Homo sapiens: one gene and its partner. The protein of the gene in region 1 interacts with the protein of each later gene in a biochemical or structural test. Each region holds a gene or a part of one and is shown on either strand. Other genes may lie near its edges. The genes, in order: SLF1 and RAD18.

The links.
Region 2: the proteins of SLF1 (region 1) and RAD18 form a complex in vitro, tested with the Homo sapiens proteins (one study listed by BioGRID).

Annotation. Positions count from the first base shown.
Region 1 is NC_000005.10:94,694,841-94,698,399, forward strand, and holds the end of SLF1 (SMC5-SMC6 complex localization factor protein 1), read left to right. Parts: coding exon 1-472; 3' UTR 473-2,781; downstream 2,782-3,559. UniProt on the Homo sapiens protein: Plays a role in the DNA damage response (DDR) pathway by regulating postreplication repair of UV-damaged DNA and genomic stability maintenance.
Region 2 is NC_000003.12:8,900,794-8,904,625, reverse strand, and holds part of RAD18 (E3 ubiquitin-protein ligase RAD18), read left to right. Parts: intron 1-2,105; coding exon 2,106-2,246; intron 2,247-3,832. UniProt on the Homo sapiens protein: E3 ubiquitin-protein ligase involved in postreplication repair of UV-damaged DNA. Postreplication repair functions in gap-filling of a daughter strand on replication of damaged DNA.

The DNA of each region.
Region 1 (3,559 bases):
TTTACAACAGAGGAATGCTAAGGGAGAATTGCCCTTGGATTATGTGGTTTCACCTCAAATCAAAGAAGAACTGTTTGCTATTACAAAAATAGAAGATACAGTGGAGAACTTTCATGCACAAGCAGAGAAACATTTTCATTACCAGCAACTTGAATTTGGCTCCTTTTTACTTAGTAGGATGTTGCTAAATTTTTGTTCAATTTTTGATTTATCTTCAGAGTTCATTTTAGCTTCCAAAGGGTTAACTCATCTAAATGAACTGCTTATGGCTTGTAAAAGTCATAAAGAAACCACCAGTGTTCATACTGACTGGTTACTGGATCTTTATGCTGGAAATATAAAGACATTGCAGAAACTCCCACACATTCTTAAGGAACTGCCTGAGAATTTGAAAGTGTGTCCTGGGGTACACACTGAGGCCTTGATGATAACATTGGAAATGATGTGTCGGTCAGTCATGGAGTTTTCATGATGATGCTAGAAAGTATGGATTGACTTTCTAAATCTGTTCAGTTTGCATTGGTACTTACTGTGGACTTCATAGCTTACTGACAGATAGTAATTTGATTTATTTATTGACAGACTTTGCAGCCTTGCTAAATTTTAAAAGCATTTTTAAAAAAACTTCTACAAAACTCTAGTATGGGCTTCTGACTTTTTCCAGGGTGTAGAATTTGACTCAAAAGTAAAAATAATTTTGTTTTAGTATATTCTACTTTCATTAATGTTTTTTTGTTCTGAAAGTGATATTATATTGTACATGTAAAATTAATTTAAATATTTTTTCAAATAAAAATGTAATGTCCTGTATTCTAGATGTTCTAGGTCTTAGAATCATGGCAAGCATATTCATACAAATGCGTACCTATAAACTTGTAGCTCCTGACTCTTAGGGATGGATTTTGAGGAAAAAACAAGACTAAACAAAAACATGTAGCTCCCTATTTCTTCTCTCTAGGTTGTTGGACTGAAATATGCATTTTAGCTTTGTGTGTTTCTAAAATAAACATTTCTAAAATTTACAGTAATAATTAATATTCTTTTGGTTTTTAAATGCAGCAAATATGCAGAGTCTGACAGTTCAATTCCTTGATCTGTTTTATTTTAGCAATTCATATACAAAATGTATCTGTCGCTGCCCTATGTAACCCAGTATTCTGTACCTGAAAACATTCTGCTGCATAGGTTTATGAGTTTAATATTAAGATATTGAGTGGCATCTAAGTAATAGATTTGAGATTATTTAAGATCTTAATATATAGTATGAATTTACTGAGTAGTAATGTTTTAATTTGCAGTTTTTCCTTATAGCAGTTTGTAGTAAAACTAAAAGAAAGGGTGTGGATAATAACCACTTTTGAGATTGGAGTTTCTTCACTACTGGGAGTAAGTTACATTATGATACAGGTGGAAAATAAACACTTCCATTTAGCTTTTATGTAATTCAAGTGATGACCTTAGCAGTTAATCTGCTAAAGCAATACACTTCAGTTTTATTTTGGAAATAGATATTTTAACAAGATACAAATGCTCAGTATCATATTACTGGGTTTGTAATCTAAATTGAAAACTGCTATATCAGTATGAAAAAATATTTTAAATAAGTACTTTTTCCACACATACTCAGGAAATACTAGTTTCTATTTAGCCTTCAAATTTGGCATCATACAAATCTCTTTATTATTAATCTGCCAAAGTATCAGACAAAAAATGATATAGTGAAGACTATCTAAGAAGAGTTTAAATGCTTATAGAGAGTAAAGTGCTTCTCCAGATGATGAATAAGAACGTTTTTTATTCCAATGAGTACCTCTTTACTTCACTTGTAAAGGTGTCTGGGATAGTGTTTGCTTGGTAAACTAATATAAACTTGTAAACATAGGCTTTGACATCATACACATTTTCAAATCCTTGTCTAGTTTCTTAATAACTAAATTGCAAGGCAAATTCTTTTCTGAGCTTTGGCTTTCCTACATGTCAAATAGAAATCACACCAGGTATCTTTGTCATGATAGAATTGTTAGCATATCACATCATATGACACTTAATAAATATTATTTCCTTTCTAATTCTTACCTCCTCTTTTGATTATAATGAATCATTTAGACAAAAGGCAATATAGTAATTGTTTAAGTTGGTAGTAATTCTAAGGTAATTAAGGAATCAACATCATGAGTTAGGGTTTTATACTGTTAGTACAAAGTAGTTTTCCAAATTAGATGTTCATAACGTATATTTGTTTAATTGCAATTAGCATTAATATTTCATAATTGACTGCTCTGTCTGCCAACTTCTACAAGCAGTGATGACATGAAGTGTGAAACAGATGTCACTGAGGTCTCTGCCTTTAAGAAGTTTTACACTTCTTCGAAAGTCCAACGTGGCAAACATAGGTTACTGTGTTCTGTGCCCTGGCTAACAATACCAGTATATGAGTATGAATCTAAATGTTCAGGAAAAGGCTTCATTCCCAAAATTACTTCTTATACTTTATTTTAGAAAACATAATAATAATTGCCTTGAATAATTGCCCAAATCTATCTTGGAGGTATAGGAAGAAGAAATTCTCAATAAGTAAAGTATAATTCATAGTCTTAGTCCTAGATTTTCAATGGCAGACTTTTCAAAGTTGCATCTGAAGACAAGGTTGAGAAATGCTATTCTTCACTGTATTTTGCCAGATGTGATATCATAGTTCTATGGAATCATATTTTTTAAATTTCTGTAAGAGACCTTATTACAATGTAAATAAAGCTGGAGAGGAGATTTCTGAGCAGTTAAGATTCAGCTTTTCCCCATGCATTGTTTACTGGCAGTTTCTTAAATCTCTTTGAAGTTAGAGTTTTCTAGGTTGTTAATTTTTAATTTCACTTTGCAGAATAAAATCATCCAAGTATATACATATTCTGTCATTTTATTCATTCCAAGATGACCAGAAAAACATTTATCCTCATAAAAGTCAAATGTGAAATTAATTCCTTTGAATTCAGCATTTCTTGAACACCTACTCTGAACCAGGTGGTGTGCTTGACAAGGGCTAACTACAAAAAAAGAGGAAAGGCCCACAGTCTAGGAAGGTAAATAAGGCTTAAGTATTGTGAATTTTATTGTCTTCTACATCTGCTAAAAAATTAATTTCAGTAATAATTGGTGTTCTGTTTTAGTTTATAAATGTGAATATTCAAGTGTCCAGTACTTTAATCCTTTGATGAGTATTATTTTAGCAATTTTATTTTAGAGTGGATAGGGTGTAGGGTGTGCTTTTGCAGTCTTAGTATTTTTAAGCAAGCACAAATGCATTACACTAAGATACTTTATATAACCTCCAGAAAATATCTGCCATTTTTGTTTATGCTGCTATAGAAAGTTAATTAAATGAATACCTTCACATGAAAAAAATATCCATGGAATGTGCAATCCTTATGCCTTTATACACCTTTCCAGTTAAGCGGTGAACTTGATGAGAGCCTGTCACTGTTGCTCCTTAATCAGTAGGAAGGGGTCATCTTGAGTGACATGAGGCACTCTTTCCCTGAGGCATTTATCACGTAGCTTTCAC
Region 2 (3,832 bases), on another chromosome or scaffold:
AGAAATCACCTAGCTTGTGTCCTAGATAGGATCTCACTTGTTTGTAAAGAGTTAGTTTTTTCCAGTGATCTTTACGGCCAGCATATATTTCTTTTGCTGACACTTTAATTGGTCTTTTATTTAAAATATGCCATACATTTTATAGCCCAACATTAGTTTCACTAGAAGTTTTCATACATGTACCATACACATAAAAATATTGTAATTAGGAGCATTCTTTCCTGAATGTCTTTGCTGTGCCTGTCAATATTCATGTATAGGAATCCAACTATTTTCTTCCTTGTGCGTCACAATTTAGTGTTTTCTCTTTTTGCGTTAAAAGATAATTTTCAAAAACAACTAACATCATTCTCATATGGATGTAAAATGAACATGTGTTTTTATTAAAGATTTAAACTCATTAGTAGAGAGAAGACTGATATTATGAGGTGATCAAAGAAGGAGCCAAAGAATCATCACATTTACAGATGAGGAACATTGAAATGAATGTATAATGAGCAAAAAACTGGCTTCTTCCACATTGGAGGAGGAAAGTCAATTGAACCTCCACCCAACAGGATTTTGCATATCTATAGACAAGAATTATTTTCCATTGCTCTCAGTTATCTACAACATACAGAGTTATACCATAGCTCAAAGGCAGTGAATGGCTGGAATCTTGGGAGAGTAGATTTAGACAATGCCATAGTTCAACTGAAGCACAATTTTTTCCCTACACCCAGTAAATTCCCTATGCCTTAGTATTATGCTAAGGAAAATGGAAGAAACCAAGTGATAACAAGTACATTGTTGATTTTTGTATGAAAACAGTGTCAAAATTTTGTTTTAACCATTTGTAGTATGGTTCTCCCTAAAAATTTTATAGGATTTATGACATTACTTTGGACTGTGGCCTAAGTATTTAACGTTGCTAGATAAGTAAACTGTGACCTCAGCTGCATGGTTCAGAATCACAAATACATGCCCTAAAGTCCATACAGTAATGATGACTGGCTGCTCTTTATTGAACAGATTGGTACATTAATAATGATGATCTTGAGGTCAGGGTTAATTATATTCAAAGGTGTTAAAATGGTAGTAAATAAAGATTAGAGTTAGTATAGTATCGTAAGATAAGGTAGAATTGGTTGGGAGAGATCTTAGAATCTTAAAGGGGCTCTACTGGGAAACCGGCCGGAAATGTGAAGAAAAAAAGGAGAGCTGGAGTAGACGGACATTCCTTTGTTATGATGATTCAACTTTCCTAGAAGCTTCTATTTTAGATTCAGCAAATACTCTTAGTTCTCTTGTATCTTGGAAGTTAGAATGGTATCATTTGTATATATTTAAGAAAGCGGGCATCTTTCATGCTCTTATGATTATGTAAAAGCCTTTCTAGAGAATGGAGTTTGGGAAGAAACCTAGAGTAGCTAACTAGGAATATCATGTTTCCATATTTGTATTTGAGGAAGGGAGAAGATAAAAAGAAGGTTCCATGACACTCCAGCCCTTTGTATTCTTATGCTTGGCAGCTTTTAAATTTATTGCAAGTGATTCCTAAGGATGCTGTTCTTGAGCAAGCTTGTACACCTCTGTTTTTTGTTTTTTGTTTTTTTTTTTTGAGACAGAGTCTTGCCCTGTTGCCCAGGCTGGAGTGCAGTGGTGCAATCTCGGGTCACTGAAACCTCTGCCTCCCAGGTTCAAGTGACTCTTGTGCCTCAGCCTCCTAAGTAGCTGGGATTATAGGCACACAATACCACACCTGGCTAATTTTTTTGTACTTTTAGTAGAGATAGGGTTTCACCATGTTGGCCAGGCTGGTCTCGAACTCCTGACAAATGGTCCACCTACTTCGGCCTCCCAAAGTGCTGGGATTACAGGCATGTGATACCACACCTGGCTAATTTTTTTTGTATTTTTAGTAGAGATGGGGTTTCACCATGCTGGCCACGCTGGTTTCGAACTCCTGACAAGTGATCCATTCACTTCAGGCTCCTGAAGTGCTGGGATTACAGGCGTAAGCCACCATGCCCATCCCTTGTACACCTCTTGATATTCAGTTTGTCAGTTGTAGATGGTTAACTTTCATAGTCCTAGCTTTACTGAGAAGATCTTTTGAATTTCAGGTAAAAAACATAAGAGTGAATTTCAGCTTCTGGTGGATCAGGCTAGAAAAGGATACAAGAAAATTGCTGGAATGTCACAAAAAACAGTAACAATAACAAAAGAAGATGAATCTACAGAAAAGCTATCTTCTGTATGCATGGGTAAGAGACTATAATTAAAAACAGACATATGTCGAATTTCATTATTTACTTTTAATATGAAAAAATTAAACCAAAGAAATTTACTTTGGAGTTCTTAGTTCTTTGAAATGAGAAAAAGTATTTTTAGACAAACTTCATGTAGCAGTTTGTAAACTAGATTTATTACTATGGGGAAAGTGGTTGGAAGAATGTCCTGAAGAAACAATCTCTTTTTGTCTATCGTCCTTTCAGTTAATGATAAATCATAAATTTCTTTGTTATTTAAGCTTCAGGATGTTTTCTAGATATAGAATTTATTGGTGGAGATCCTGTAAAGAGAGTGAATTATTTTTGTGATAGAACACTGGTGTTTACTTTGGATGAAATGTTCTGCCAAACAGTCTAAAGTTAACATACCTGGTAGGCTAATACAGAGCACGTTCCTTAACTTTGATCCATTTTAAAATTTGAAATTGATATTTTAATTCTATTGCCTGGGCTTTGGACCAGTGAACAAAAAAGAATCATAATGGGGGAAAGTGCGCAAGAAAATTGCTTATTATGTTTTTCTATATTGTGGTAAAATATACATAACACAATGTTTATCTTTTTAACCCTTCATAAATGTACAAGTCATTGGCATTAAGTACATTCACAATATTGTGTAACTATCACCACTGTCTATATCCAAAACATTTTCATCATTCCCAGCACAAACTTTGCACTCATGAAATAGCAACTCTTCCGTCCCCTCTGCCTCATAGCCCTGGTAATAACAATTCCACTTTCTGTGTCTATGAGTTTGCCCATTCCAGGTACCTCATATAAATGGAATTGTATAATATTTGTCTTTGTGTGTTGGCTTCTTTCTCTAAGCATAATGTTTTCAGAGTCCTTCAATGTTGTAGCACATTTTAAAATTTTAAAATATTTTAAAATTTTTGATTAAACAGTATTCCATAGTATGTATATGTCATATTTTGTTTATCCATTTATCTGCTATGGTTATTTCCACCTTTTGGTTCTTATAAATAATGCTGCTATGAGCATTGGTGGTCAGATATTTAAGTTTCAGCTTAGAGTGCGATTTCTGATTCATATGCTGGTTCTATGTTTAGAACCTTTTGAGGAATCGTTAAACTTTTCCATAGTGGCTGCATTATCTTACATTCCCACCAGCGAAGCATGAGGGTTCCAATTTCTTCACATCCTCATCAATGCTTGTTATTTTCTGATTTTTAAATTTTTTAAAAATTGTAGATGTGAAGTGGTATGTCATTGTGGTTTTGATTTGCATTTCCCTAGTGACTAATAAACAATTTGTGCATAAAGTGCTGCCTCAGTATGTAACTCATGGTCATTGAACAACTCGAACTTGTTCATGCAGTTGTTAAAGGATATTTCTAGAAACTAGTTTAGCACTTGAGAAAATCTGACTGAATATTTCCCATTAAGAAAAGTTTTTTTAATTAGTTGAACCTCTCTTGAATATCATTGATGGCTTGTATGTATTTATGAACATCAATATTACTCTTTCCGGGGTTCAGAGGTGATTGCTGCTTTTAGATTGCTGTGCATGAATGAGATGTCTGAGAGGGTAAGGTATG